4 separate regions of the Homo sapiens genome follow, and all the other regions are linked to region 2. Evidence: fine-mapped expression QTL. A gene starts in region 2. Each other region holds a variant in brackets. All regions are shown on one strand. Distances are between the middles of the regions. Region 1 overlaps BEST2 (bestrophin 2). Region 2 holds the start of TNPO2 (transportin 2). Region 3 holds the start of WDR83OS (WD repeat domain 83 opposite strand). Region 4 overlaps TNPO2 (transportin 2).

Region 1 (5,000 bases), 37 kb after region 2:
CAGCCCGCCCTGACCACCAGCTCTACTTCCCAACCCCCACTGCCTGAGAGGTCTCTATCAGTGTCCTGCCTGAATTCTTTCCTTCAAGTGAAGATGTGACTGACTACCTCCTCGAGTTGTCATGAGGATGAAAGAATGGCATTAAAGCATTTGGTATACAGTAGGTGCTCAATAAATTGCTAGTGATTTTTACTCAAACGTTGTTAGTCTGATTTCTCCTGCCAGACATTATCCATTGTCCTAAGTAAAATTTGGGAGTTCTTGCAGGTTCTTTTTTTTTTTTTTTTTTTTGAGACGGAGTCTCTCTCTGTTGCCCAGCCTGGAGTGCAATGGTGTGATTTCTGCTCACTGCAACCTCTGCCTCCCAGGCCCAAGCAATTCTCCTGCCTTAGCCTCCCAAGTATCTGGGATTACAGGCACGCACCACCACACCCAGCTAACTTTTTTTAATTTTTAGTAGAGAGGGGGGTTTCACCATGTTGGCCAGGCTGGTTTCGAACTCTTGACTTCAGGTGATCCACCCACCTCTGCCCCCCAGAGTGCTGGGATTACAGGCGTGAGCCACCAAGCCCTGCTGCAGGTTTCTTCTTTCTTCTTCTTCCTTCTCCTCCTTCTCGTCTTCCTCCTCCTCCACCACAACCACCAGGCCCAGCTTATTCTAGGTTTTTTTTTTTCCTTTGAGACAGAGTCTCACTTCATCACCCAGGCTGGAGTGCAGTGCCACGATCTTGGGTCACTGCAACCTCCACCTCCCTGGTTCAAGGGATTCTTGTGCCTCAGTCCCCCAAGTAACTGGAATTACAGGTGCGCACCACCACACCTGGCTAATTTTTTGTATTTTTAGTAGAGACGGGGTTTCACCTCTTCCAGGTTTTATGATGGTGCCCTGCTTAATTCTTCCCAAACTCTGCTGTCTGAAACACCCACATCAGTGCCCTGGCATTACTCATTAATGAGCCAGCCACTGTCCCAGGATCATGGGTTCTTCTTGCCTCAAGCCTCTGCATTCTCAGGCCCTCAGGGCTTCAGGTTTTACTAATTTAATATCACACGGACTCCTGATGACTCCTGAATATAAAAGTCCAGCCAAGGCAGTGAGCTCTGGTCATGCCACTGCACTCCAGCCTGGGCAACACAGTGAGACCCTGTCTCAAAAAAAAAAAAAAAAAGAGGCCTGGTGCTGCAGTGGGGCTCACACCTGTAATCCCAGCTGGGAGGTGGAGATGGGTGGATCATTTGAGGTCAGGAGCTGGAGACAGGCCTGGCCAACATGGTGAAAGCCCGTCTCTACTAAAAATACAAAAATTAGCCAGGCGAGGTGGTGGGCACCTATAATCTCAGCTACTCAGAGGTTGAAGCAGGAGAATCGCTTGAACCTGAGAGATGGAGGTTGCAGTGAGATTGTGCCACTGCACTCAAGCCTGGGTGGCAACAGAGTGAGACCCCATCTGAAAAAGAAAAAGGAAGAAAAAGAAATCCAGCCAGGATCCCTTCTCTAACTGTAGACCCAGAAAGCCAACTGCCTCTTGGATGCCTCCTTGCAGAGATGTCACAGACACTTCAAACATAACACACTTGAAATCCAGCTCCTAATCAGCCCCCCAATCTGCCCCACCCTGTGTGTTAGCTTTGTCCTTCCAGGTGATAAGGCCAAAAGAAGTCATGTGGATTCCTATTCCCGCCACAGGCCATCACATCAACCCAGTGGCCACACCAACCCAGCAGCAAATCTTATCAGCTTTGCCTTTATTTTTATTTTATTTATTTATTTGTTTTTGAGACGGAGTTTCGCTCTTGTTGCCCAGGCTGGAGCGCAATGGCGCGATCTCGGCTCACTGCAACCTCCACCTCCCAGGTTCAAGCAATTCTCCTGCCTCAGCCTCCCGAGTAGCTGAGATTACAGGCATGCACCACTACGCCCGGCTAATTTTGTATTTTTAGTAGAGACGGGGTTTCTCCATGTTGGGGCTGGTCTCGAACTCCTGACCTCAGGTGATCCGCCCGCCTCAGCCTCCCAAAGTGCTGGGATTACAGGCGTGAGCCACCGCGCCCGGCCGAGATTTGCCTTTATTTTTATTTTATTTTTGAGACGGAATTTAACTCTTGTCACCAGGCTGGATTGCAATGGCATGATCTTGGCTCACTGCAACCTTCGCCTCCCGGGTTCAAGTGATTCTCCTGCCTCAGCCTCCCAGGTAGCTTGGATTACAGGCGCCCACTACACCCAGCTAATTTTTGTATTTTTAGTAGAGACAGGGTTTCACCATGTTGGCCAGCCAAAGTGCTGGGATCACAGGCGTGAGCCACCGTGCCCTGCCAGCTTTGCCTTTAAATCGTATCTAGAATCCAACCATTTCTCACTCCTCCAGGACCCCAGCCTGGCCAGAGCCCTCACTATCACCCACCCACCCACCTGGACTACCAACCAGGTCTTCAAGCTCTGGCCCTGGCCTCCTAAGCCTGTTTCTCCCAGAGTGGCCACCAGAGGGCGCCTATGAACACCCGAGCCAGGTCACATCCCTCCTTTGCTTAGACTCTTCCGTGGCTCCCACAGCACTTAGAATAAAAGTTAAAGTATTCTCTGCAGCCCACAAGTCCCTGAATAATCTCCCCACCCTCATCTGCTTTCTTTTTCTTTTTCTTTTTTTTTGAGACAGAGTCTCGCTGTATCGCCCAGGCTGGAGTGCCAGTGGAGCCATCTCGGCTCACTGCAAGCAAGCTC[C/T]GCCTCCCGGGTTCACGCCATTCTCCTGCCTCAGCCTCCCGAGTAGCTGGGACCACAGGCACCCGCCACCACGCCTGGCTAATTTTTTTGTATTTTTATTTTTATTTATTATTATTATTTTTTTGAGACGGAGTTTTGCTCTTGTTGCCCAGGCTGGAGTGCAATGGCATGATCTCAGCTCACCACAACCTCCGCCTCCCAGATTCATGCGATTCTTGTGCCTCAGCCTCCAGAGTGACTGGGATTACAGGCGTATGCCACCACATCCGGCTAATTTTGTATTTTTTTTTTAGTAGAGACGGCGTTTCTCCATGTTGGTCAGGCTGGTCTCAAACTTCTGACCTCACGTGATCCGCCCGTCTCAGCCTCCCAAAGTGCTGTGATTACAGGCGTGAGCCACTGTGCCCGGCCGCATTTTTTTGTATTTTTAGTAGTGACGGGTTTCACCGTGTTAGCCAGGATGGTCTCGATCTCCTGACCTCGTGATCTGCCTGCCTCTGCCTCCCAAACTGCTGTGATTACAGGCGTGAGCCACTGCACCCGGCCTTCTGCTTTCCTTTTATTTTTTGAGATGGAGTCTTGCTCTATCGCCCAGGCTGGAGTGCAGTGACACAATCTCGGCTCGCTGCAACCTCCGCCTCCCGGGTTCATTCTCCTGCCTCAGCCTCCCGAGTAGCTGGGACTACAGGCACCTGCCACCACGCCCGGCTAATTTTTTTGTATTTTTAGTAGAGACAGGGTTTCACCATGTTAGCCAGGATGGTCTCAATCTCCTGACCTTGTGATCCGCCAGCCTCAGCCTCCTAAAGTGCTGGGATTACAGGCATGAGCGTGAGCCACCACGCCCGGCCTTCTGCTTTCTTATTCACTCCACTCCAGCCACTCTGGTCCCCTTACTGTCCCTCCAGCACACCAAGCGAGGTGTCATCTCAGGGCCTTTGTGCAAACTGTTCTGCCTGGATCTTCCCCAGGTACTTACATGGCCTCTCCCTCACCTCCTTCAGGTATCTGCTTCAATAATGTCACTTCCTTGGTGAGGCCTCCTTTCTGGGCCTTTTTATTCTTTTTTTTTTTCGATGGGGTCTCACTCTTGTTGCCCAGGCTGCAGCAAGCTATGATTGTTCCACAGTGGTGGCTCACTCTGGTAACTCTGGGCACCAAGGTGAGGGAGATAAAGTGGGCCAGGGTTTAGCCCACTGCTTTTAAGAAAAGCTTAGTGGCCAGGCGTGGTGGCTCACTCCTGTAACCCCAGCACTTTAGGAGGCTGAGGTGGGCGGATCATCTGAGGTCAGGAGTTCAAGAACACCCTGGCCAACATGGTGAAACCCCGTCTCTACTAACAATGCAAAAATTAGCCAGTCGTGGTGGCATGCGCAGGTGGTCCCAGCTACTCAGGAGGCTGAAGCAGGAAAATCCCTTGAACCCAGGAGGCAGAGGCTGCAGTGAGCCAAGATCGTGCCACTGCACTCCAGCCTGGGCGACAGAGTGAGACTCCATCTCAAAAAAAAAAAAAAAAAAAAGCAACAACAACCAAAAAACAAAACCACCACACATTCACAGACACACAAACGTGATCCTCACCTACCTCTGGTTGGTGCTATTGGTCACTCACATTTTAGTAAGAATGCAAGCCAAGCTTTTCTTTCTTTTTCTTTTTGAGATGGAGTCTTGCTCTGTTGTCCAGGCTGGAGTGCAATGGCATGATCTCAGCTCACTACAACCTCTGTTTCCCAGGTTCAAGCGATTCTCCCACCTCAGCCTCCCGAGTAGCTGGGATTACAGGCATGTACCACCATGCCCTGCTAATTTTTGTATTTTTAGTAGAGGAGGGGTTTTGCCATGTTGGCCAGGCTGGTCTCAAACTCCTGACCTCAGGTGATCCACCCGCCTCAGCCTCCCAAAGTGCTGGGGTTACAGGCGTGAGCCACCGTACCTGGCCGCTAAGCTTTTCTTAAAAGCAATGGGCTAAGCCTCTGGCCCACTTTCTCTCCCTCACCTTGGTGCCCAGAGCACAGCCAGGGCAGATTGAACGCCTTTATTTTTCTCAAATATAAAATCAGAGTCTCCTGAGGCAGCACATGAACTCCAGAGAGAGAATCAACAACAAGAATCACATTGCTAAAAAGAACAGGCCTATATCTACCTCCCGCCCTCCCTCCCCACCAATCTGGGAGAGGGAAGAGCAGAGATCATGGCCTCAAAGCTCTCGAGCACCTGGCTGAAGCCCAGTGCTGGGCGCCATGTGAGCTGGAGGAAGCCAGGGTGGGTGGAGCCCAGG
Region 2 (5,222 bases):
TTCCCCAGATGCGCCCTCCCAAGACGATCGTCCTGATCTCTCCTGTCCCCTGTTCCTGCCCTTCAAGCTCAGTGGATGCCAGATATCCCCCTCTGTGGCCTAGCCAAATTCTAAGGATTCCCCTTAATCAGGCCCAAAGCAGTCCCCAGGTAGGTCTCTGCTGCCTCTTCGAATGAGAGCCAGCCAAGCCCGGCCAACCCACTATAGGAGCCCCCTGGACCGATCCCAGTCGCCTTCCCCAATCAGGTCTGGCCAAGCCTCTCCCTGAAATTCCCTCCGACCCTGTCAGCAGTAACCCCTGCTGACGGATCTCTGTTGCCTCTCCCAGTCAAGTTCGGCCGAGCCCCCCACCACCTCGTGTCAGTAACCCCCTGGTCCGATCCTTGCAGCCTCCCCCAGTTCGGCCTGGGTAAACACCCCCCGGGGCATTCCCCTCAACGGATCCCAGCAACGCCTCGAAGTCAGATCCAAGAAAACCCTCTAGGCCGAAGTCTGACGCCCCTCCCTGTCAGGACCCAACGAGCTCCCCTCCCCCCACCCCGCTCAACTTTTCAGTGCGGCCTCCCCCAATCAGACCCAACCAAGCCCCACCGAAACAGGCCCCTACACACACCCGATCCTCGCGACGTCCCCCAATCAGGCCCCAAGCAGTCCCCAGACGCTTCCCCCAATCAGATCCCCTCCAGCCCGACCCCAGCAGTCCCACTGGCCCTCTTCTTGAGGAGCCCCGACATGGCCTGGCTCCGAGGCCCCACCCCCTAAGCTCTGCTCGGTTCCCCCCTCCCCCGCCCGGCCCGTTCTAGCTGCCAGGAGGATCGGGCCCAACCGGCTTCCCGGCCTTTCCCGGTCGGGCGCGGCCCCGACGCCCGGGCCGCGCGCGGCGCAGGCTCGGTGCCCGGCGGGGGTCGACGCAAGCCGGGGCCAAGAGGGTCGGGCTCTGAGTGAGGCCCACTTACCCGGCCCCGGGCAGCAGCGGCGGCAACTCGCGCTGCGGCTTCTCCAGAGACTCGCGCGGAAGGAGGGAGCCAAAGAGAGAGAATTAAAAAAAAAAAAAAAAAAAAAAAAGAAAGAAAGAAAAAAAAAAAAGAAAAACGCGGCCGTAGGTGAGCCGCCGCGGCTCCCGTACTCCGTTCAAACTGGTCCCGCCGAGCCAATCGGAAGGTTCAACCTTCACACGTGCCCTGGCACTTGGGAAACCCGGGCTGAGACAAGGTCCGGTCACGTGACCAAAGAGTTGCCGTTTCTTTGGCCTCTCTAGCCAGCCGGTCCTCCCAGTGTCTCGTTTTCCCAGCATCTTTCACTGACCTGACCGCAAGCTCTTTAGCTGGAGCCAGGAGTTTGGTAGCGCGTGGGGACTTTGTGTGTGATGGATCCAGGAACCCCTCGGCCAGAGCCAGCACCCTCCTTGTCACCTTCCTCCACTAAAAATTGAAATGTGCCTCCCTTCCCCCATCCAGAGGTACTTGGGAGGAGTACGCTGTGTGTGCGCAAGGAAAGAGCTGAGCGTGCTCTTTATACCCCAGAGACAAAGGAAAGAAAGCAGGACAAAGTAAGTGCCTGAGACAAGCCGGGTTCCTACAGAAGCCTCTGCCACTTTTTGCATTATTTTCCAGTACTGTTTGATAGTTTTTACAAGGAGATGAAAAAGCCACAAGGATATAAATTTTTGAATAAAACGAAATGAACTAATAAAATAAACTTTGAACCACGCCTAATCCCTTTCCCTACCTGAAGTTGAATGAGGTGGAACAGCGCAGGAAATTCTGGCAAGGGCAGGGTCATGAAGAAAGAAATCTTCTTGATCCTTGCGACGTCTGAAGACAGTAGGGCACCGTTTTTCCTTCTCTTGAGAGAGGAGCAGATGGTAAAAAGCTGGAGACCCTGTAGCGTCTTGGTTTCCCCTCCCTGCCCTGCCGATAACAAAGTGGGAGACCTCCTGCCACTTGAAGCCTCAGTTTCCCCACTTGTCAAATGGGTATAAGAGCAGTTCGCGCGATTAGAGATCATCCAAGTTAAGCATGACCTGGCCAGCTCTGAATTGTTCCTTAAAAACGTGGCTTTACCCTCCAAGGCTCAAGGCTGTTCTTTTACTGTATTCAGCCCCTCCCTAAGCCGATATTTAATGAATTCACCAGCTCTAATCCCAAAGAACAACCCACCCTGCCCTGAGGAACTTTTTGACCCTCGAGAGAGGCAGAGGTCAATTTTTGCCCCTGCCTGAAGGAGGGGAACAGCTATCTCAACCCACTTGCCGTAGGCAAAGTCAGTCCCGGCTCCGTTCATTCATGAAAATCAAGTCCCGGGCCTCCAAGGTTAGGGAAGTGTCGGCAGGCGCCTAACTCCACTCGGAGAATCGCGGAAGACACCCTAAAGGAGCAGTTGGGATTCCGAGGTAGCCAGTTCCGCTGGACTGAAACCTGGGCTGAGAAACACGTGCAGAAAGCCGCCACCAAGGCATGCGTAAAGGCCTCCCTCTCCCCCACCCTCCGATAAGCCCTGGAACTACAAATCCCGTCCTGCCATGCGCCAGGGTCGCCGCGCTTTGGGGTTTTGGCTGAGACTCAAATTGGCAGGAGGGTCTCTAGACCAACCGAGGTGCATGGGGAGCAGAAGAGTGAGACTGGGGAGCTGGGGCTGGATTTGGGGGTTCCTGGAGCGAGTGTGAACGATAAGAGCTTTCTGGTCAAATTTGGGGGCTGCCCCAGATAAAGATCAGATGGGGAGCGAGTTTGGGATGCAGGAGACAATTTGTTAAGGTTCACCCCCTTCATATAATATGGCAAATTTTCAGCGGCCCTCCGCAAGCCTTGGGGCAGAACAAAGTAGCCCCTGCTGCATGTGTGGTCCACATTGTTGGCCCTTGTGTGGTCACGGAATTTTTTCTTCCTCTCCAGCTGGTGAATTTGAGTGTTGAATCAGGACAAGGTTTTGGGTTTTTGTTGTTTTGTTGTTTTTGTTTTTCTATTTCTTTGTTTTGTTTTGTTTTGTTTTTGAGACGGAGTCTCGCTCTGTTACAAGGCTGAAGTGCAGTGGCGCGATCTCAGCTCATTGTAACCTCCGCCTCCCGGGTTCAAGCGATTCTCCTGCCTCAGCCTCCCGAGTAGCTGGGATTACAGGCATGCGCCACCACGCCCGGCTAATTTTTTTTAATAGAGATGGGGTTTCACAATGTTGACCAGGATGGTCTTGATTTCTTGACCTCATGATCTGCCTGCCTTGGCCTCCCAAAGTGTTGGGATTACAGGCGTGAGCCACCGCGCCTGGCTTTTTTTGTTTTTTTGTTTTTTGAGATGGTGTCTTGCTCTCATTGTCCCGGCTGAAGTGCAATGGCTCAATCTCGGCTCACTGCAACCTCCGCCCCCGGATTCAAGCGATTCTCCTGCCTCAGCCTTCCGAGTAGCTGGAATTACAGGCGCCTGCCACCACGCCAGGCTAATTTTTTGCATTTTTAATAGAGATGGGGTTTTGCCATGTTGGCCAGGCTGGTCTTGAACTCCTGACCTCAGGTGATCCACCTGCCTCGACCTCCCAAAGTGCTGGGATTACTGTGCCCGGCCCAGTTTTCCTATTTCTTTCTTTCTTTCTTTTTTTTTTTTTTTTTTTTTTTTTTTTTTTTTTTTTGAGACACTGTCTTGCCCTGTCGCCCAGGCTGGAGTGCAATGGTGGGATCTCAGCTCATTGCAACCTCCGCCTCCGGGATTCAAGCTATTCTGCCTCAGCCTCCCGAGTACCTGGGACTACAGGCACCCGCCACCACACCCAGCTAATTTTTGTATTTTTAGTAGAAACAGGGTTTCACCATATTGGCGAGGCTGATCTTGAACTCCTGACCTTGTGATCTGCCCGCCTTGGCCTCCCAAAAAGTGCTGGGATTACAGGTGTGAGCCACCGTGCCTGGCCTTTTTTCCTTTTTTTTTTTTTTTTTTATTTTGAGGTGGAGTTTTGCTCTTGTTGCCCAGGCTGGAGTGCAATGGTGCAATTTCGGCTCACCACAACCTCTGCCTCCCGGGTTCAAGTGATTCTCCTGCCTCAGCCTCGCGAGTAGCTGGGATTACAGGCATGTGCTACCACGCCCTGCTAATTTTGTATTTTTAGTAGAGACCGGGTTTCTCCATGTTGGTCAGGCTGGTCTCGAATTCCCGACCTCAGGTGATCCACCTGCCTTGGCCTCCCCAAGTGCTGGTATTACAGGCATGAGCCACCATGCCTGGCCTTTTTTCCTATTTCTTAAGCACCTACTGCATGTCAAGTGGTTTCCAAATGTTATCTCATTAATACCGGATGTGGTGGCTCATGCCTGTAATCTCAGCACTTTGGGAGGCCGAGGGCAGATCACGAGGTCAGGAGATTGAGACCATCTTCTGGCTAACACAGTGAAACCCTGTCTCTACTAAAAATACAAAAAAATTAGCCAGGAGTGGTGGCCTGCGCTTATAATCCCAGCTACTCAGGAGGCTGAGGCAGGAGAATCGCTTGAACACGGGAGGCGGAGGTTGCAGTGAGCCAAGATCACACCACTTCACTCCAGCCTGGGCGACAGAGCGAGACTCTGTCTCAAAAAAAAAAAAAAAAAAAAAAAAGGCCAAATGTTATCTCATGCAAATCTCACAACAGCCCTATGCCTGGCAAACTTACCCTAGTTCAATTAGAAGCTCTCTGTGCCAAAAGAAACTCACAGAATTGGTGTCCAACCAGCCGGGCGCGGTGGCTCACGTTCATGCCTGTAATCCCAGCATTTTGGGAGGCCGAGGCGGGCAGATCACAAGGTCAGGAGATCAAGACCATCCTGGCTAACACGGTGAAACCCTGTCTCTACTAAAAATACAAAAAAAAATAGCCAGGCGTGGTGGCGACCGCCTGTAGTCCCAGCTACTCGGAAGGCTGAGGCAGGAGAATGGCGTGAACCCAGGAGGCGCAGCTTGCAGTGAGCCAAGATCGCGCCACTGCACTCCAGCCTAGGCGACAGAGCGAGACTCTGTCTCAAAAAAAAAAAAAAAAGAATTGGTGTCCAACCGCGAATCTGAAATGTGAGACAAACGTGTTCTCAATTTACAGCAGCCTCCCTTCCCAAGCCTCTCATCACACTGTCCCCCGAGTTCAAAGGTCAGCACTTCAACTAACTTAACACAGTCCCCAAACGCAAGCCAACTTCTTCACCCTGGAAAGCACTAGCTGTTTTAAACAATGGCAGGGTTAGATTCTATGAATATTGCCCTTACTTT
Region 3 (5,124 bases), 52 kb before region 2:
ACTACACCCATAGAAGCTCAACCCCGCCCACCTTAAGCATGAGGCCGCACATGCTGAAGATCATGCCCAGCAGGTTCATGTAGTCCGGCGTCGGGTCGTCCAAGGCCGGGTTACATTCGCTCGGCGGGGGCTTGTACCTGCGACAGGCTCGAGGGTCAGGGGCGCTCAGGTCCTGCCCCCGGGATAGACAGGCGCTTCCCAGGGCCCCGATCCACACCCACAACCCGAACCCGTGCCCACGACGCTGGGGTCCTCACCTCAGCACTTTGTTCGGCCTCCGTGGGTCCGACATATTGTTAGTGGACATAGCGAGTCGAAGGCCAGATCACGCCTCTTCCGCTGCAGGAATCGCAGCTTCCGGCGTGCAAGCTGAGGGCGGATTTTAGAGTAACACCCGAGGCCCTCGCATTTCCGTTCCTCATGACAGAGGCTTGGACTCCCCTTACCCAGAGAACGGAGATTTAGGAGAAGCCAGAAGTCTTCCTTTCAAAGGGAAAATGGGGAAAAGAACCTGAAAGCGGGCTTCAATAGTTCCAACCCGATCACCGAAATGCCAAAATGATGAACCCGGAAGTGATAAACAGGAAGTAGGTCAGGAAGAACAATAATAAGGTTACACCCAAGCGTGGGTTTCTAAGGCGCGGAATTTTCCGTACAGACCGATTTAAGGCTGCAAGGAAGGAGTCCTGGGAGCATGGCTTTCCCTGAGCCAAAGCCGCGGCCTCCAGAGCTGCCGCAGAAACGGTTGAAGACGCTGGACTGCGGGCAGGGGGCAGTGCGAGCCGTACGATTTAATGGTGAGCGCCTTCGTCTTCATTCCGGGTCCTCCTCCCGCCTCCTGAGATCGACGGCCCAGTAACCCCCGCCTGGTGTTCCCCAGTGGATGGCAATTACTGCCTGACGTGCGGCAGTGACAAGACGCTGAAGCTGTGGAACCCGCTTCGGGGGACGCTGCTGCGGACGTACAGCGGCCACGGCTACGAGGTGCTGGATGCGGCCGGGTGAGCCGGGGACCAGGCTGGGATGGGAGCGCTGAGGCTGGGATCCGAGGTCGATGCTGATCCTCCTCCTCCTTTACTCCAGCTCCTTTGACAACAGTAGTCTCTGCTCCGGCGGCGGGGACAAGGCGGTGGTTCTGTGGGATGTGGCATCAGGGCAGGTCGTGCGCAAATTCCGGGGCCACGCAGGGGTGAGTGAAAGCCTGGAGACCCTCATTTGAGTGGAGGGGACCCGTATTAGCGCATAGGTGGTGACACGGCCACCCCCATTACACCGTAAGGATCCCTTCCCCAGATGACGATCCCCCACTCCGCATGCCAGGCTAGGCAGTCACCAACCCCTGTCCTTGCTGTTCCCCCAAAACCTTTCACCTCCCCTTCGCCCTTGCTTTAACCGACACTGGGAACCCTGCCTTTATCCCAGTCCTCCAAAGTCCAGCCTCCTCTGAGTGGCAATAACTTTCTCAGAAGGTGAACACGGTGCAGTTTAATGAAGAGGCCACAGTTATCCTGTCCGGTGAGTCTGGGGCCTAAGCACGGGGGCCCAGGGTGCTGCCCTCCCCCTCCAAACCTGACCTCACCATCATGCTGGCCTCACAGGCTCTATTGATTCCAGTATCCGCTGTTGGGATTGCCGCTCACGGAGGCCTGAGCCAGTGCAGACGCTGGATGAGGCCAGAGATGGCGTGTCCAGTGTGAAGGTGTCAGACCACGAGATCCTGGCAGGGTGAGTGGAGCCAGGACCTGGTCTCACCCCAGGTGCTACGGGGAATCATAGCTGCCCCCATGCTCAGATTAAAACCTACTCTCAGCTGGGCACAGTGGCACACAGCTGTAATCCCAGCTACTTGGGAGGCTGAAGTGGAAGGATCACTTGAGTCCAAGAGTTCGAGGCACCATTGCACTCCATGCTGGGTGAAAGACAGACTGTCTACAAAATAATAATAATCTGGCCGGGCACGGTGGCTCACACCTGTAATCCCAGCACTTTGGGAGGCCAAGGTGGGCAGATCACTTGAGGTCAGGAGGTTGAGATCAGCCTGGCCAACATGGTGAAACCCCGTCTCTACTAAAAATGCAAAAATTAGCCAGGTGTGGTGACGGGAGCCTGTAATCCCAGCCACTCGGGAGGCGGAGGCAGGAGAATCGCCTGAACCCGGGAGTTGGAGGTTGCAGTGAGCCGAGATTGTGCCACTGCACTCCAGCCTGGGCGACAAAGTGAGACTCCATCTCAAAAAAAAAAAGATAAAATGATTTCTAAAAATAAATAAAAATAGGCCGGGCGCTGTGGCTCATGCCTGTAATCCCAGCACTTTGGGAGGCAGAGGCAGGCGGATCATGAGGTCAGGAGATCGAGATCATTCTGGCTAACACGGTGAAACCCCGTCTCTACTAAAAATACAAAAAATTAGCCGGGCATAGTGGCAGGCGCCTGTAGTCCCAGCTACTCAGGAGGCTGAGGCAGGAGAATGGAGTGAACCCAGGAGGCAGAGCTTGCTGTGAGCCGAC[A/G]TCGCACCACTACACTCCTGGGCGATAGAGCAAGACTCCGTCTCAAAATAAGTAAATAAATTAAATAAATAAATACATAAAAATAATCATAAGGAAGAATTTTTGTTTTTTTTGAGACGCAGTCTCGCTCTGTTGCCAGGCTGGAGTGCAGTGACGTGATCTCGGCTCACTGCAACCTCTAACTTCTAGGTTCAGGCGATTCTCCTGCCTCAGCCTCCCTAGTAGCTGGGACTACAGTCGCGTGCCACCACGCCCAGCTAATTTTTGTATTTTTAGTAGAGACGGGGTTTCGCCATGTTGGCCAGGAGGGTCTCCATCTCTTGACCTCGTGATCCACCTGCCCTGGCCTCCCAAAGAGCTGGAATCACAGGCGTGAGCCACCGCGCCTGGTGGAAAAAATATATTTTCTATTCATTAAGTGGAAGTGAAGAGATCGTCATAAAGATCTTCGTGTTGAGAAAGCAGAGGAGGAGGAAGAGGAGGGATTGATCTTGGTGTCTCACAGCTGATAGAGGCAGAAGAAAATCCACATATAAGTGGACGCGTTCAGTTCAAACCGTGTTGTTCATGGGTCAACTGTACTTTGAAAAGTGCTCCCTCTGGTGGCTGTGGGGGGTGCAGGGAGACCAGAACAGTCTAGATGCTGGTGCTGGGTAGTGGGGAAAGTGGTGGGACTGAGTACTGAGGAGGAGGAGCTGGAGAATGCAGGAAAAGGGGGAATTGGGCCAGGTGGGGTGGCTCACACCTGTAATCCCAGCACTTTGGGAGGCTGAGGTGGGCGGATCACCTGAGGTTGGGAGTTCGAGACCAGCCTGACCAACATGGAGAAACCCCGTCTCTACTAAAAATACAAAATTAGCAGGGCGTGGTGGTGCATGCCTGTATTCCCATCTACTCGGGAGGCTGAGGAAGGAGAATCTCTTGAACCCGGGAGGCAGAGGTTCCGGTGAGCCAAGATCATGCCATTGCACTCCAGCCTGAGCAACAAGAGCAAAACTCTGTCTCAAACAAAAGGAAGAAAAGGGGGAATCAGAAGGACTCCAAGGGCTTGGAAAGGGGGTGTGGGTCTTGGAAATGATGGAGTAGGACGTAATTGGCCCTGGGCCTGAGTCTCAAGGCCAGAGCTTCAGAATTCCACTCCTGTGCACTGGAAGAGCAGGCCCACTGGGCTGGGAAGGCACAGGGCTGCCTGGAGCCATGTGAGTGTAGTCAAGGTTCCCGCTGGATCTACCCTCTCCTGCAGCTCCGTGGATGGCCGCGTGAGACGCTATGACCTAAGGATGGGGCAGCTCTTCTCAGACTACGTGGGCAGTGAGTGTGGCTGGGGATGTGGGACAGGCAGGGAAGATGGGGGGCCAACCAGGGGCACCCCACCCTCACTCACCTACCCACCCTTCCCCCAAGGCCCCATCACCTGCACCTGCTTCAGCCGGGATGGGCAGTGCACCCTGGTGTCCAGCCTGGACTCCACATTGCGGCTCCTGGACAAAGACACAGGGGAGCTGCTGGGCGAGTGAGTCCTTGTGGTCGTGGGGATCCCCTTCCCTCCTCTCCCACCCCTGGAGAGGACCAAGCCCCCCGATCCTGTCCACCCTTAGGTACAAGGGCCATAAGAACCAGGAATACAAGCTGGACTGCTGCCTGAGCGAGCGTGACACACATGTGGTCAGCTGTTCTGAGGACGGGAAGGTGTTCTTCTGGGACCTGGTGGAGGTGAGGTGCCCCCAGCCCTACTTCATACCTAGATGCCTGCCCCATCTCAGCCCTGTCCTTACCTCAGTCACTCCAGGGCCTGAAGGCTAGGATCTTTTTTTTTTTTTTTTTTTTTTTTTTGAGACAAGTCTTGCTCTGTCGCCCAGGCTAGAGTGCAGTGGCGCAATCTTGGCTCACTGTAAACTCCGCCTCCCAAGTTCAAGCGATTCTCCTGCCTCAGTCTCCTGAGTAGTTGGGATTATAGGTGCGTGCCACCACACCCAGCTAATTTTTGTATTTTTAGTAGAGACAGGGTTTCACTATGTTGGTCAGGCTGGTCTTAAACTCCTGACCTCATGATCCACCCACCTCAGCCTTCCCAAGTGCTAGGATTACAGGCGTAAGCCACCACACCCGGCCCTTTTTTCTTTTTTTGAGACTATTGCCCAGGCAAATGCAGTGGCGCCATCTCAGCTCACTGCAACCTCTTCCCCCCAGGGTTCAGGTGATTCTCATGTCTCAGCCTCCTGAGTAGCTGGGATTACAGGCCCCTACCACCATACCTGGCTAATTTTTGTATTTTTAGTAGAGACAGGGTTTCACCATGTTGGCCAGGCTGGTCTCAAACTCCTGACCTCAAGTGATTCACCCGCCTCGGCCTCCCAAAGTGCTGGGATTACAGGCCTGAGACACCGTGCCCAGCTTGGGCTAGAGAGAAGATGAGGCAGGAAGGGCATTCCAGGCAAAGGGAACAGCATATGTTAAGAGGTGTAGCCTGCGCATGCATCAGTCAGGAAACAAAGGCTTCAGGGTGGCGGCAGGTGCGGCAAGATCCGGGGTCAGGCTGGGCTGCAGATGCCAGGCCGAGCAACTGGCACTGACCCCTGGGCAAGGGGGAGCCGACGGCCATGTCTAACCTTGGGTG
Region 4 (5,222 bases), 23 kb before region 2:
TATTTACTGCAAGCCTCTTTTGAGCCAGGCAGCTAACCAATCCACGTAGGTCATCTGCGCAGTCCTTGCTGTTTGCTCTACTTGACACTCTTCTCTCCATGGCTCTGTTCAAACATCGTCTTCTCAGTGTGGCCTTTGCAGGTCACCCTACATAAGATTTCAACCGTTTCCCCCACCATTCTCTCTGCCTTCCTGTTTTTCTCTATAGGACTTAGCACAGTTCCACTTTTTATACTCTATCCTCTCACTAGAATGCAGGACTTATTTGTTGAATATTGGATGTGTGTCAGTATTTTTAAATTTTCCCACGTTGGTCTTTGGGCCACACCAAGGTTGCAGTAAGATTTTATTTTGGCTGGGGGCGGTGGCCCACACCTGTAATCCCAGCACTTTGGGAGGCTAAAGTAGGTGGATTGCTTGAGCCCAGGAGTTCAAGACCAGCCTCAGCAACATAGCGAAAACCCCCTCTACAAAAAATACAAAAATTAGCCAGCATGGTGGCATGCACCTGTAGTCCCAGCTACTTGGGTGGCTGAGGTGGGAGGACTGGTTGAGCCAGGGAGGTTGAGGTTGCACTGAGCCATGATTGCGCCACTGCACTCCAGCCTGGGTGACGGAGCAAGACCCGGTCTCAAAAAAAAGAAAGATTTTATTCTGAAGATTGTGGTTTCCCCCCACAGCTGAAACTACTTCTCATTTGCCTGAGTAATTGTAACTAATATTAATTAAATTACCCTCGGCCTGGGGCTGGGCTGAACCTTCTATGAAAACCTTGACCCAGGGTCAGCTGATGATAAGAGTGCGGCAAGGCCTCACCCCTTACCACTCAGTTTAGAGTACGGCAGAGGGGCATCTTGAACCTGGGCTGTGACACTAATGGCTCACCCTTAGTGAGCTGAAGTCCCAGAGAATGAGCTGCACATTTCATATATGTTACAAATTTAATCTTCCATCTTTCACATTCGTCTATCTTCCCACTCTCAAGTATCCCCGGTGCCCCCGACATTTCTTCACTACCAAAGCCAAGGACACAGGAAGCCACAGACTAAGGAGTTCACAAGAAACTGATCTTTACTCAACAAAGTTCTACACAAGTGGAATCTCACGCCACCTCGGCGCCAATCCCCAGCACAGCACAGTAACAAATGGACAGACCCGGGAGCCCGCAGGGGGAAGAGGGTGAGGAGGGAAAGAGGGACTGTGGCTCAAGGCCAGTCTGGGTCCACAGCCCTGGGTAGGGGAGAAGGTTGAGAAGCTGAAACTTCATTGTGCAAAAAACAACCAAAAATAAATTAAAAAATTAAATAGTTTTTTTTTAAAAAAAAAAAAAAAAAGGAAAACGAGAAGAACCAGGCTCCCCTTCCCTGAAGGTGTTTGTATCCCCCCATCTTGAGTAGCGAGGGGTTACCAATCCCATCAGACAGCCAATCCATCCACACACCCCAAGACCCAGCAGAGGATGCTTCAAAGAACTGGAATTACCAGAAAATTAAAAGGTATTTTTAAAACTTTTTTTTTTTTTTTTAACAAATGGCTTCCAGAGACCTGCTCGAGTTTCATGGGGTGGGCGTGCAGGGACACCCAGCTAATTTATGGAATGTGTACTGAGTGCCCCTTGGAATAGATGCAGGGCCTGACCCTGACTATGGAAAGACACAGGGCTTGGATGGAGGGTCTGGCGCCCAGGAGGGATGGATGGAGCAGGCCCCAGGATGCGAGACTCCAGTCAGACTCCAAAACACAAGGGGCTCCCCAAAGAAGTAGAAAGCAGGGAAGGAAAAAAAGGGAAAAAATGCTAAGGGGGTCTGCAAGGCCCAGTTTTCTGGCCAACTGGGAAGTAACTACACCCCCACCCTCTCTAGGGGAGCCCCTTCCACCTTGACCATGTTCCCAGACTATTCCGGAAGGTTCTCTAGAATTGCTGACCCAGTCTAGTAGGATCTCTGGGCTCACTGGGTACTATGATGAGCAGGAAGTCCCAGGGAGATGGAATAGGGAACAGGGGACACACCACCTTTCCCTTCCACCAAGCCTTGGTTTTCCTTTTTGCTGGCAAAAACCTGTGTCCTCTGTCATCATCAATTAAACGCCCCTGCCCCAGGCCTTGAGTTAAAACTGGGGCCTGAAACGTGAGAAGGGGGTTTCAGAAGCACAGAGAAACGGACTGCCCCTGAAGCTGCTTACAGAGAGAGATGCTCGGGGTAGGTGCCAGTAGCTCTGGCTACACCCAGCTCTCTTCAGGAAAAAGGTCCCAACCCAGTGTCTTCAAAAGCCACTGGAGCACACAGGAAGGAGAAACGGTGACCTCTGGCCAGCCCCAGCCACTCCAGTGGTTCTCACCCTGCGAGCTAGGCTAGGATAAGGACGGAGACACCACCAGCTGAGGCTGCAACAAAGCTGGCAGGGAGTGTGTGGAG[T/C]GGGTCCCAAGCATGTGCGTGCTGACAGGGCGACTCCCAAGGTCACCATCCTCCTCCCCCCGCCCCGAGATCCCGCCTGAGGCCCCCCACCCACCCAGCCCTCCCCAGTCACCGCCAATTCCGGCAAAACAGCAGAAGCTTCTTAAACTCTAGATGCAGGTTACACGGAAGGCCTTACGGGTTAACTCAGGGGTTCACTAATTCTACTGTCTCCATGCAGTCGGGGAAATGGTGGAGCGGCTGGCCCAGCCTCGCCGGTTATGGCACCCGCACATGCGTGTGGCCATGTGTGTCCGTGTGAGTGTACGCGTCCCTACGAGGGCCCCCCTCCTGACCTGCTCCTCCCTCACCTCATCCGAAGCCGGATTCGGTCAGCTGTGTAATTCCTCCCTCCCACGTAGCTGGCCCAAGTGGGCTGCCAGAGATGACCCTATTAGAGCCCAGGGGCCCTTGCCCACCAGAAGTCCCCCCCACCTCCCCGTTTGTAGGATGAGCATGGTGGCCCCACCCACCTGCCAGGAGGGCAAGTGGACGGATGGACGGACGGACGGACGGACGGGGAAGGCATCTGGATTTGAGTCCCACTCACTCCTCCCTAACCCCCCTCAACCAGGGCACAGCGACTTCCGGATGCAGCGCACTCCCCAGTAATCCCTCCGACGACGACGCAGACAGAAACCTGCAGGGGGAGGAGGAAGGTCATGGCCTGGGACCTTTCGGCCCCCAAGACAGTGCTGACTTGCCAGCTGCAGTCTCCTTACCTGGCAGTCTCCATGATCACCTAGACCCCATAGAAAGCCGCCAGCCTCTCCTTGAGCAGCGGCGGGAATTGCTCAGAGAACTGCTGCCAGTTATCTTCCCCAACTTGGTCTTTGAAGCCGTGGAGAATCTGTGGGGAGGGTGGTGGTGAGGGGTAGGCAGGGGCAGAACAAGGGGAGTGCGCCTCTTCCCCCATCCCCAGGCCCCATTGTTACCAGATGGTCTCACCCCTGCCTGCTCCCGGAACTAGATCAGGGCCCAGACAGAGCCTCACCTTATAAAACATGTCCCGAAGGTCATCCTTCGGGCTCACCCAGGAGGCTACAGCATCGCAGAAGAAAATAAAGTCCTGAAACGTGACGGATCCCAGGTGAGGGGCCGCCCGAGCCCAGCGCCCGCGCCTGCCCTCAGAGCCCAGCTGCCCCAACCTGCACAACGCCCCCCGGGTTGACACCGATCATCATGCAGATGCCGCGGAAGGCTGAGTCCTTCTCCTCGTTGTCCCTGATGTTCCTGAGGGACGTGCACCTGTGGGAAGGTGAGCAGCTGGAGGTCAGAGGGCAGGCTGGGCATGCATCTGTGGAGGGCTGGGTCACTGGGGATCAGTGAGTGGGCCTGGGACATGCATCTGTGGGGGTGGGGCAGGGCAGGGAGTCAGTAGGCAGATGGGGCTGGAAATGCACAGGCGAGGGAGGGGGTTGGGCCAGTCCCGCCCACCACACAGCAGGCTTGACACGTGGACACACACCAAGGCCGGATGAACTGCTGCAGCATGGGTGCCACCTCCTGGGGGCACACGTAGCCCAAGCGGCCGATGGTGATGGCTGGAATGGCAGAGGGACTCGTCAGGCGACCTGCAACCCCGAGCGGCCCCGGGACGGTACGTGGCGGGGCCTCTGGCACAAGGCACCAAGCCCCGCCCCATGAGCCCCAAGGGAATGGCTACTGCAGCCACCCTGGTCCCCCAAGCTTGGCCCAGCCAGGGGTCCTCCTCATCACACCTGAGTCACTTCCCAGGTCTCTCTGCATCTATCTTTCTTTCTTTCCTTTCCCTTTCCTTTTTGTTTTTTTTTGTTTTGTTTTGTTTTTGAGATGGAGTCTTGCTCTGTTGCCCAGGCTGGAGTGCAGTGGCATGATCTTGGCTCATTGCAACCTGCCTCAGCCTCCCGAGTAGCTGGGATTGCAGGCACGTGCCATTACCCCCGGCTAATTTTTGTATTTTTTAGTAGAGATGGGGTTTCACCATGTTGGCCAGGCTGGTCTCGAACTCCTGACTTCAGGTGATCTGCCTCCCAAAGTGCTGAGATTACAGGCATGAGCCACTGCACCCAGCCTGAGGCTGCATCTTTCTTGGGGCTTCTCCCAGTGACCCCTTCCAGGTACTTCCAGACACCCTCCTTGGTTCCTTGACAAGGCTCTTTCTGATGCCCTTCCCAGCCCAGAACCCCACCTCCAGAAGGCAGGCAGGGGTGCAGGCAGCAGCCGGGCCAGGTGCCCACCTGTGTTTTCCAGCAGTGTCTTGGGTGTGTTGGGTCGGTTAATGATTTCCACCAGGTTGTTGAGGACCATCTGCACATAAGGCTGCATCTCTGCCCCTGGGGGAGCACCCAGTCAGAGCCCTGCACAGCCCCCGCCACCCACAGGGGCCAGGGGGCCGCCCCACCTCACTCACTACTCGCCCCAGTTCCAACTAGAGACTGGCCAACCACTACCAGTGAGGAAACAAAAGACCTTCTCCGGCTAATCCCCACCCAGAATCCCTGGCCAACCAGGGACAGACCCACACCCTCCAAACAACAGAGGCTTCTCTGGAGTCGCTAAGGTGACAACACGCTGCCCAAGTCAAAGGAAAAAAAAAGCCAAAGTCACCCAACCAATCCGAATGAGTCTTTTAGCCAACTACACAAAACGGTCCAATCAGAACAGCCCTCCTATCCCTCCTCTTTAGAGAAGCCAATCACAAATGACCTTTCTGCTTGGCTCCACCCCTGACGACCCCCAAGAGACTTGCCTTGAAGGAAGCTGTCAGTCAGAGCTAGGCTCCCG

Evidence for each region.
Region 1: its variant is fine-mapped to the expression of TNPO2 in whole blood (INTERVAL, PIP 0.95).
Region 3: its variant is fine-mapped to the expression of TNPO2 in whole blood (INTERVAL, PIP 0.98).
Region 4: its variant is fine-mapped to the expression of TNPO2 in whole blood (INTERVAL, PIP 0.99).

Annotation. Positions count from the first base shown.
Region 1 is chr19:12,758,261-12,763,260 of GRCh38, forward strand. BEST2 (bestrophin 2) reads left to right here. Exons shown (of 10, transcript NM_017682.3): 10 at 1-198. It overlaps HOOK2 (hook microtubule tethering protein 2), which reads right to left. Exons shown (of 23, transcript NM_013312.3): 23 at 4,743-5,000. Among named protein-coding and RNA genes, the nearest start is that of BEST2, 9.0 kb to the left of the region's middle. The variant C/T (reference allele first, on the strand shown) is at 2,723.
Region 2 is chr19:12,721,521-12,726,742 of GRCh38, forward strand. TNPO2 (transportin 2) reads right to left here and starts at 2,412. Exons shown (of 26, transcript NM_001382241.1): 1 at 2,249-2,412; 2 at 1,729-1,845. RefSeq lists enhancers at 327-945, 946-1,563, 1,362-1,511, 1,564-2,182, 2,183-2,799 and a silencer at 772-861.
Region 3 is chr19:12,669,097-12,674,220 of GRCh38, forward strand. It overlaps WDR83 (WD repeat domain 83), which reads left to right. Exons shown (of 11, transcript NM_001099737.3): 3 at 659-797; 4 at 881-1,001; 5 at 1,084-1,189; 6 at 1,467-1,515; 7 at 1,599-1,725; 8 at 3,751-3,818; 9 at 3,912-4,020; 10 at 4,106-4,220. The coding sequence starts at 695. It overlaps WDR83OS (WD repeat domain 83 opposite strand), which reads right to left and starts at 319. Exons shown (of 4, transcript NM_016145.4): 1 at 258-319; 2 at 32-137. The coding sequence starts at 307. It also overlaps a transcript of DHPS not described here. RefSeq lists enhancers at 788-877, 1,018-1,107, 1,267-1,940 and a cis regulatory region at 2,815-3,395. The variant A/G (reference allele first, on the strand shown) is at 2,508.
Region 4 is chr19:12,698,148-12,703,369 of GRCh38, forward strand. TNPO2 (transportin 2) reads right to left here. Exons shown (of 26, transcript NM_001382241.1): 21 at 4,676-4,771; 22 at 3,925-4,030; 23 at 3,605-3,704; 24 at 3,451-3,525; 25 at 3,179-3,306; 26 at 1,054-3,096. The coding sequence ends at 3,199. Among named protein-coding and RNA genes, the nearest start is that of SNORD135, 2.9 kb to the right of the region's middle. RefSeq lists enhancers at 2,991-4,190, 3,468-4,077, 4,688-5,222. The variant T/C (reference allele first, on the strand shown) is at 2,418.